2 separate regions of the Homo sapiens genome follow, and region 2 is linked to region 1. The links come from fine-mapping of genetic effects on gene expression. Tissue or cell type: whole blood. Region 1 holds a variant in brackets; the other region holds the start of a gene. All regions are shown on one strand. Distances are from middle to middle.

Region 1 (5,210 bases):
AATAAAGCCATTATATCAACATTTTCATTATCTATAACCACTTATTGCTTGTGATGAAATAATATAAATGAGAAACCTGTAGTAACTAATCAAACCAGTAAAATGATTCTAATAACTTGTAAAGTGCCTGGCATGAAACAGGGAACTCAAAGTATATTTGAAAAATCTATCAAATATGTGGTAAATTTGTACACCTCAATTTATATCAGATACTCAGAAACAAAACAATTAGGTTTTGTTGGGCCCATCTAGAAACCTGAGAAATTTAGTGTTCATTTCAGCAGCACATGTACTTAAAAATTTGAGAAATTTAAACAAACCAATGATTACTCTAATACTTCCACGTACCATTTACTTCAATTTGATATGATAATATCTAGAATATACTGTTCTGCGTTTTTGGAATTCATACTTTTTAAAATCTTACCAATTTTAAGGAGATTATTTTTCAGAAATACATTCTTTGACTTTAAGTCTCGATGAAGTATCCTCCTACAAAAGGCAAAAAAGATATACAACTTCATGCAGAATATAACATTTTTAAATCCCCATGTAAATAATATATGTTGTTGCACATGATTTACACATAAATATATACTCCCATAGATATATCTTTCAATGTTTAAAAGCTACAAAGCCACAATACTTTCCAGTTTCCCTGAGGAAACAAAAGTTTTAAAATAAAGATTTTAAAGGTTGGGGAACATGTAGTTTGGAGAACGGTGATATGCTTTCAACTATTTCAATAGGCTATATTTTATTATGTTTTTGTAGCATAATCTACATAGTACTATATCCAGTAACCATATCCTCAATTGATAGACCAGTTTGTAATCTATTATTACCCAAATGTCCAAGTTTTATATACTTGTGAAAATAATAACGTTGTTGATGATATTTAAGAATAGGTAACATTTATTAAATCTGACTATAAGTCAGTAATGTAAATTATGTCAGTTAAGACCTTTATTTTATGGAATTATAAAGAACTAGAAAACTTGAAAATCTTTGCATAAAAAAACTAAAATGCCGAATAAAGTATACAAATATCTTCATATATGCACAGTTGAGCTCACATAAAAATGAAAAAAAATCCCTGCGAATTATTCAAAAAGAAACTGAAAGTCATTCTAGGCCATAAAACATTAACAAATTTGAAAGAAGAGAAATCATACCATTTCTGCTCTCACATCAAAATGGAATCAAACTAGAAATTAATAACAGAAAGATAACTGGAAAATCCCAAAATATGTGAATATAAAACCACACACTTCTAAACAATGAAGAAGAAATCTCAAGAGAAATTTTAAAATATTTTGAACTAAATGAAAATGAAAACACACTTTATCAAAATTTGTGTGATATAGCAAAAGCAGTGCTTAGAGGGAAATTTACAGCACTGAATATATATATTAGAAAAAAAGAAAGATCTAAAATCAGTTATCTAAGCTTCCACCATAGAAAACTAGAAAAGAAAAGCAAATTAAACCAAAAGTAAGGAGAAATATTACAGCAGAAATAATAAAATTGAAAACAAGAAACCAATAGAGAATATCAACAAAAATAAAACTGGTTCTTTGAAAAGATCAATAAAATCAACTAGCCTCTAGCCAGCCTAAGTAAAATAAAAAGATAGAAGACAAAAACTATTAAAATCAAAAATGAAAGAGAGGGCGTCACTACAGATTCCGTGGACATTAAAAGAATAAAAAAGCAATACTATTAACAATCTATAACCACAAATTTGATAACCTAGATTAAAAGAACCAATTCCTTCAAAGACACAAGCTGCCAAAAATCATACAAGAAGTAGACAATCAAATAGGCCCATCTTCAGTAAATACATTCAATCAATAATTAGTAAGTTTCCAAATAAAAAACACTGGGCCCAGATGGGTTCACTGGCGAATTCTACCAAATATTTAAGGAAGAAATTGCACCAAATATCTATAATCTCTTTCAGAAAATAAAAGCAGAGGAAATACTCCCTAACTCATTTTAAGATGTCAGCATCATCCTAACATTAAAACCAAACAAAGACATTACAAGAAAAGAAAACTAAAAACCAGTATCTCTGATGAATGTAGATGAAAAAATCCTCACTGAAATATTAGCAAATCAAATCCAACATTGTAGGCCAGGCGTGGCAGCTCATTCCTGTGGTCCAAGCACTTTGGGAAGCCGAGGTGGGTGGATCACCTGGGGTCAGGAGTTCGACACCAGCCTGGCCAACACGGTGAAACTCCATCTCTACTAAAAATACAAAAGTTAGCTGGGCATGGTGGCAGGGGCCTGTAATCCCAGCTACTTGTGAGGCTGTGGCAGGAGAATCGCTTGAACCCGGGAGACAGAGGTAGCAGTGAGCTGAGATCACCCCACTGCACTCCAGCCTGGGTGACAGAGCGAGATGTTGTCCAAAAAATATACATATATATATCCAACATTGTGTCAGGAGAATTATACACCACAACCAAGTGGGATTTATACTAGGTATGCAAGGCTGCTTTAACACTTGAAAGTCAATTAATGTATCCATCACATCAACAGAATAAAGAAGAAAAATCACATGAAAAAATCAATAGATGCAGAAAAAGCAATTGACAAAATCCAATACCCATTCATGACAATAACTCTGATAAACTAGAAACAGGAATATTTATAACAAACCTACAGCTAACATCACACTTTACAATGAGAACCCTGACGTTTTTCTGCTGATATCAGGAACAAGGGAAAAATGTCCCCTCTAATCATTTATTTTCAACATTATACTGAAAGTCCTACC[T/A]AATTAAGTAAAACAAGAAAAGGAAGTGTAAAAGGAATAGAGATGGGAAAGGAAAAAACAAACTCTCTGTTTACAGATGACATGATCAGCTAAGTAGAAAATCCAAAAGAATCAATTAAAAAAACCTCCTGGAATTAACAAGTAATTAATTCTGCAATGTTGCAGAATACAAGGTTGATACACAAAAATCAATTGCTTTCCTATATACCAGCAATGAACAAGTAGAATTTGACATTTATATCAAACTATATTTACATTAGTACCCCTGAAATGAAACACTTAGGTATAAATCTAATAAAATATGTACAAGATCTATATGAGGAAAGCTACACAACTGTAATGAAAAAAAATCAAAGAAGAACTAAATAAATGGAAAAATAATCCATGTTCATGGATAGGTAGACTCAATATTGTCAAGATATGGATTCTTTCCAAATTGATCAATAGATGCAATGTAACCCCAATCAAAATCCCAGGAAGTTATTTTGTAGACATTGATAAACAGATTCTAAAATTTGTATGGAAAGGCAAAAGATCCATAATATTGGGTCTTTTGAAGGAGAACAACAATGTTGGAGGACTGATACTACCTGATGTCAAGACTTTCTATAAAGTACAGTAATTAAGACAGTACAGTATTGGAGAGAAAAAAAATCAATAAAACAGAATAGAGAGCCCAGAAATAAAACTGCGTGAATACAGTCAACTGATCTTTGACAAAGAAGCAAAGGCAATGCAATGGAACACAGTCGTTTCAACAAATGGTGCTGGAACAACTGGGCATTCATATACAATAGATGAATCTAGACACAGACCTTACAGCCTTTGCAAAAATTAACTCAAAAATAAATCATAGGCCTAAAAAATATAAAACTATAAAACTGCTAGAAAATAATATGTGATAAAATCTAGATGATTTTAAGTTTGGTGATAACTTTTTAAATATAACACCAAAGTCACAATCCATGAAAGAATTGAGAAGCTAGACTTTATTAAAATAAAAAATTTCTGCTCTGTAAGAAAACACTGTCAAGGAATAAAAAGATAAGCCACAGACTGGGAGAAAATATTTGCAAAAGACGTATCTGATAGACTGTTGGCCGGGTGCAGTGGCTCAAGCCTGTAATCCCAGCACTTTGGGAGGCTGAGGCAGGCAGATCACAAGGTCAGGAGATCGAGACCATCCTGGCTAACGTGGTGAAACCCCATCTCTACTAAAAATACAAAAATAAAATTAGCCAGGCCTGGTGGTGGGCACCTGTAGTCCCAGCTACTTGGGAGGCTGAGGCGGGAGAATGGCATGAACCTGGGAGGTGGAGCTTGCAGTGAGCCAAGATTGCGACTCTGACACGCCTGCGTGACAGAGCGAGACTCAGTCTCAAAAAAAAAAAAAAAAAAAGACTGTTATCCAAAATATACAAAGAACTATTAAAACTCAACAATAAGAAAATAATCTGGTTTTAAAATGGGCCAAAGACCTTAACAGACACCTAACCAAAGATGATATACAAAAGGCAAATAAACCTGAAAAGATGTTTTACATCATATGTCATCAGAGAAATGAAAATTAAAACAACAATGAAGTACCACTACACACCTATTAGAACGGCCCAAATCGAGACACTGACAACACCAAATGCTCACAAGGATGTGGAGTAACAGAAACTCTCATTCGCTGCTAGTGGGAATACAAAATGGTTCAGCCACTTTGGAAGACAGTTTGGCAGTTTCTTACAAAATGATACAAATGCTTATCACATAATCCAGCAATCATGTTCCTTGGTATTTATTCAAATGAATTAAAAACTATGTCCACACAAAAACCTGCACAATGGTGTTTATAGCAGCTTTATTCATAATTGCCAAAACTTGAAAGCAACAAAAGTGTCCTTCAGTAGCGGAATGGTTAAATAAACCATGGTACATTCACACAATAGAATATTATTTAGTGCTAAGAAGATATGAGCTATTAAGGCATGAAAAGACATGGAAGAAACTTAAATGCATACTACTAAGTGAAAGAAGTCAGCCTGAGAAATCTATATATGATTCCAGCTATATGACAATCTGGAAAATGTTAAACTATGGAGACAACAAAAAGATAAGTGGTTGCCAGGGTTTAAGAGGGAGGGAAGAATGAGTAAGGAGAGCACAGAGAATTTTTAGGGCCATGCAACAACTTTATGATACTAAAATGATGGGTACATGTCATACATGTGCCCAAACTCAAAGAATGTATAGCACTAAGAATGAACCCTAATGTAAACTATAGACTTTGATGATAATGATCTGTCAATGTAGGTTCATCTGTTATAACAAATGTATGACTGGTAGCAATGCTGATAACAGGGGAGGCAATGCATGTGTGGGAGCAGGGGGTATAAGGGAAATCTCTGTACCTTCCACTCAATTTTGCTGTGAACCT
Region 2 (5,133 bases), 100 kb after region 1:
ATAATCTCTCTGGATTAAAAACAGGAAGAGTTACAAATTCAATTCAAACCTAAAATCCCATTTAATGTCAGTGGAATATAAATGCTACAGATAAATCTGTAATTCCTCAGGGAGCTATGAGACGTGGCAGTTATGAAAGGCAGGACTGTTTAGGCCGGGCGCAGTGGCTCACGCCTGTAGTACCAGCACTTTGGGAGGCCAAGGCGGGCGGATCACGAGGTCAGGAGATCGAGACCATCCTGGCTAACACGGTGAAACCCCGTCTAATACAAAAAAATTAGCCGGGCATTGTAGCGGGCGCCTGCAGTCCCAGCTACTCGGGAGGCTGAGGCAGGAGAATAGCGTGAACCCAGGAGGCGGAGCTTGCAGTGAGATCTCGCCACTGCACTCCAGCCTGGGCGACAGAGTAAGACTCCATCTCAACAAAAACAAAAACAAAAACAAAAACAAAAAAAAGAAAGGCAGGACTGTTTCATATGAGTAGGTACAAAGTAAAATCACTTTTATTTCATCAGAATGTTAAATGTTTTGTTAGTTATCAAGAAAAGTGTGCTTTTGTTTTAAATCTATATAGAAATAACATTTTAAATTGAAAACTGCCTACACCTTGAAGTTAGGTTTTCATATTCAACAATTCCAAAGCTATGAGACAAAAACCTAGTTTTTAAGGATGGTCAATGGGCTTTACGTGGTGGTGTCCGTCAACCACAAAAACTACTAGGGCAATTAACCACAAAAATCCTCAAAACAGAACATAAGTAAATGCCCATTTACAACATTTTCCTTCTTAAAATGTATGAATCAGTTAAGTTGTACCTAATACCAGTGAGATTAGTTACCAGCTTTTTCTTTTCCCTTCCAAAGACACGTTAGTAAAATCTGCTGGAAAAACAACTACAGAGCAGGCCTCTAAATATACCTTTTGTTTTTACTTCCCCTTCACTGTCATAAAAGTGATGCCGTCTGGCCATACTAAGCTGTTCAAATAAATATATGGACTTACAGACTTTCCAGCTGAAAAGGGTCCTTCAGGTCACTCAGTAATTCTCCTTATTTTAAAGATGAGATTAAGGTTCCTTTTAGAGAAGGACAGAATTAGGGACGGACAGAATGAGAAGTTCACTTCTAGCGGCTCTTATTTTAAAGGACAGTCTAAACCCAGCAGTGCTTAAGTAGTCTGGTCCAGGCTGCAGAAGACTCTGGGACTAGGTTCCCTCCCGCCCACCCTCACAGACTCAGCCCTGCCACCCCCATCCCAGTCCACTTTTAGGTCATCCATTCCATTAGTCTCCTCTGCGCAACCATAAACCTACCCAAGAATGTGTCGCATTGTCTAGATTCTAGAACTATCTGTTCACTTGACAACACGCTCCCCCTCGAGGTTTGAGTGAACTTGGGCACTGCGAACACATCTTCTTTATTTCTGCATCCCCAATCCCTGGCATACCTCCTGGCATATACTAGGTGTTTAACAAACCTTGTTAAGGCAAGTAAGTGTCCAGCAGATCAACTGCCGCCCAAAGGAGAGAAAAAAGGTTAGTTAAGAAAGCTAGATGGGAACTTGGAGAAAGTTACTACCTTGTGCAAACTACCCGTTCTCGGTGAAACAGATCTGGCTGGGGGCAAAAGACAACGGAAGGAGTATTTATCACAAGTTGAAAACCAGTAGTTATCTTCCCAGGTAATAAGAGGAAGGCAATTTGTCACCAGTTTCTGCTACAGCACAAATCTACCTTTAAAGTAAATCTTAACCTTAAGGTAAAACGAACAATTCCTTGCTTCTTCACCTTTTTAAACATTTACATTTTGGCAAAGCAGGTTAACGTTTATTGAGGGGCACTGAGACTGGAGTACATCCGGAGGTAAGATGTCCAGGAAAGCGAGGAGATCGCAGCCATGGCGTCCTAGAGATTCGGAACCCAGCCCGGGCAGCTTGAAACCATTACCTTCCCCCTCGCAGGGGAGCCTGGCTAGCCCCAAGGAGGACAGTTCGCTTTACCTTTCCCTGTCGTGGTCGGAGCGGCGCCCGGGGCTGCCCAAGTCTTGCGGGTAATCGGGCAGGCCTCAAACTAGGGGCAACCACACCCACCGAGCGCCAGACACCGCGGGCCACGGCTGTTTGGAACCGTGGCCAGGGAGACGGCGCGGGGCATACTGGGAAGTCGGGGCGAGGCGGCACCAAGGCGGAAGTGTTCGCCGACCCAAGTAGGCGGAGAAAGCAGAGGAGGACCGGCGGGCCAAGCTTTCCTAGCCTGACAGCAGCCATTTCGGAACGTACGTCCCAGCCCTCTTTAGCTACTTAGCGCCTCTGGGCCCGAGAACACCTGCTCCTTGGCTCAGTCTGGCGCCACCGGCATCACGGAACTGTACTTCCCAGAGACGTCACACCGGGAGACTTCCGATTCCCGCTCTTGAGATTGGACTCTCACGTGCAGGAGCCAGTCCTCGCTGGGCTCTAGCGGGCTTCTGATGGAGGAGCTACTCCTCTGGGAGGACAGAGTAGGTGGGCTCTGCTGCAGGTCCGGGCGGCGGGTTGTGAGGGCCGAGGTGGCACGGTGTATGAAGGCCTGTGTTTGAAGACTTAGGTCAGACCTTTTGCCCGCCTTTCCCCTATGCAGCTCTATGCAACTGTCTGTGCAAGGTCCTGTAATTTGCGTAGGACGCCTTGACACAGTCTCTGCTTATGGACGCTTTACAAAACTATCTTGCAAAGAAATAAGTACTATACAGGATAAGGTTCTGAGATACTGACAGGGCTGGAACTAGGGTGAGATAAGTGTAAAATGTAAATGGATGCCAATAAAATTCAGTAATCAAGGTAAGTTTTAATGCAATCTCTAAAAATCAAAATTATAGCAAAAAAAATCCATGACTGACAAAATGTCACGATTTTAAGTAATAGTAACAGTACCGTGCTGTGCCATATTGAAGCCCGAGGTGTCAAAAGAAAAACCATCAATTCTGATCCTGCGAGTTAAGTTAGCCAGGTGAGGAAGCGTAGCTGGGCCAGATATGCAAAATAAGATGATGAAAAGAGCTCGTGGTTAGGGGTGTAACTGGATAGAGGGGTTCCTAGAGGCATGAAGCAGTTTTCCTTATACCAAAAACTATGCCAATTAAGAAGGGCCCACAAATCCAAAGCCTGAAAGAAGTTCCGTGACTGATTGTCAATACAAAAGAAAAACTTGATCCTTATCATAGGTCCTACACACCTTACTTTACTGAAGCCCAAATGCTTTGTGATTATGAGATGAATATGATATCTTTTTTTTAGCTTAGGACTTTTTACTTTGACCCCACAAAACAAATACTCTGTGCTGTAAGATGTTGACTATTACCACTTAAGAATCAAAGTTCACAGAACTTCTATACTGGTGTGTCAGTAATGGACTTCAACTGATTTTTCTTTAGAATTAGCAGCAGCCTCTGTCACCATCCAAAGATTACAACCCATGAAACCATTGAATTTGTGCCTTGTATCAGAAAGCAAAGGAGAATGAAAAAGCACAGCTAACATTGCTTGAGGATCTAGGTAAGAATTTATGATGTTGATATCTATGTTCTATCTAAAGAGCACTTCATAACATTTGCTATTGATTTAATGGTGCTGGAAGCAATGACTTGGTGCCCCATAACTAGCATCAATTGAAAATGTTTTCTGTTGTTTTAAACAGGCGATTAATTCTTTAGACTGTCATCATGGGTATCCGAGGACTAATGAGTTTTGTGGAAGATCATAGTAATGAGTTCTTCACTGATTTGAAGTTGCGGGACACAAAAATTGTCATTGATGGTTATGCTCTTTTCCACCGTCTTTGCTTCAGTTCAAACTTGGATCTCCGGTATGGAGGGGACTATGATTCTTTTGCAGATGTTGTACAAAAATTCTTTGAATCACTGTTTGCTTGTAATATATGCCCATATGTTGTATTAGATGGAGGATGTGACATTTCAGATAAAAAGCTTACAACTTTAAAGGATAGAGCTAGAGAGAAGATCCAGATGGCCCATTCCCTTTCTGTTGGTGGGAGTGGGTACGTATGTCCCTTACTCATCCGGGAAGTATTCATACAGGTTTTGATCAAGCTGCGGGTGTGTTTTGTCCAGTGCTTTTCAGAAGCAGATCGGGACATTATGACACTTGCTAACCATTGGAATTGCCCTGTGTTATCATCAGATAGTGACTTTTGCATTTTTGACCTGAAAACTGGGTTTTGCCCATTGAATAGCTTTCAGTGGAGAAATATGAACACTATTAAGGGCACACAAAACTATATCCCTGCCAAATGCTTTTCCCTTGATGCATTCTGCCATCACTTCAGCAATATGAATAAAGCTCTACTACCTCTCTTTGCGGTGCTATGTGGAAATGACCATGTTAATCTACCCATCATGGAGACATTCTTAAGTAAAGCGCGTCTTCCTCTTGGAGCTACCAGTTCTAAAGGGAGGAGACACCACCGAATCCTGGGACTTCTGAATTGGTTGTCTCATTTTGCCAACCCTACCGAAGCACTAGATAATGTTCTGAAATACCTCCCAAAAAAGGATCGAGAAAATGTTAAGGAACTTCTCTGCTGTTCCATGGAAGAATACCAACAGTCCCAGGTGAAGCTACAGGACTTCTTCCAGTGTGGTACTTATGTCTGTCCAGATGCCTTGAATCTTGGTTTACCAGAATGGGTATTAGTGGCTTTAGCTAAAGGCCAGCTATCTCCTTTCATCAGTGATGCTTTGGTCCTAAGACGGACCATTCTTCCCACACAGGTGGAAAACATGCAGCAACCAAATGCCCACAGAATATCTCAGCCCATCAGGCAAATCATCTATGGGCTTCTTTTAAATGCCTCACCACATCTGGACAAGACATCCTGGAATGCATTGCCTCCTCAGCCTCTAGCTTTCAGTGAAGTGGAAAGGATTAATAAAAATATCAGAACCTCAATCATTGATGCAGTAGAACTGGCCAAGGATCATTCTGACTTAAGCAGATTGACTGAGGTAAGTATTTGTAATACTAATGAAATTTTTGTAAAGTACTTTACAGGATACAAAGTGCTGTCTTCTATATTAGTTCACTTACTATAACAAACTGATGAGGTTGAGTGCTATCTTGCCCTCATGTCGTAGCTA

Evidence for each region. PIP is the estimated chance that this variant, and not a neighbour inherited with it, causes the effect.
Region 2: NEK11 starts here. The variant in region 1 is fine-mapped to the expression of NEK11 in whole blood (INTERVAL, PIP 0.91).

What each region holds. Positions count from the first base shown.
Region 1 is chr3:131,128,027-131,133,236 of GRCh38, reverse strand. NEK11 (NIMA related kinase 11) reads right to left here. Exons shown (of 18, transcript NM_024800.5): 6 at 428-492. Among named protein-coding and RNA genes, the nearest start is that of NEK11, 100 kb to the right of the region's middle. The variant T/A (reference allele first, on the strand shown) is at 2,786.
Region 2 is chr3:131,023,873-131,029,005 of GRCh38, reverse strand. NEK11 (NIMA related kinase 11) reads right to left here and starts at 2,129. Exons shown (of 18, transcript NM_024800.5): 1 at 2,000-2,129; 2 at 1,004-1,076. It overlaps ASTE1 (asteroid structure-specific endonuclease 1), which reads left to right and starts at 2,181. Exons shown (of 6, transcript NM_014065.4): 1 at 2,181-2,499; 2 at 3,412-3,532; 3 at 3,675-5,001. The coding sequence starts at 3,700. RefSeq lists enhancers at 1,820-2,009, 2,090-2,149, 2,290-2,529.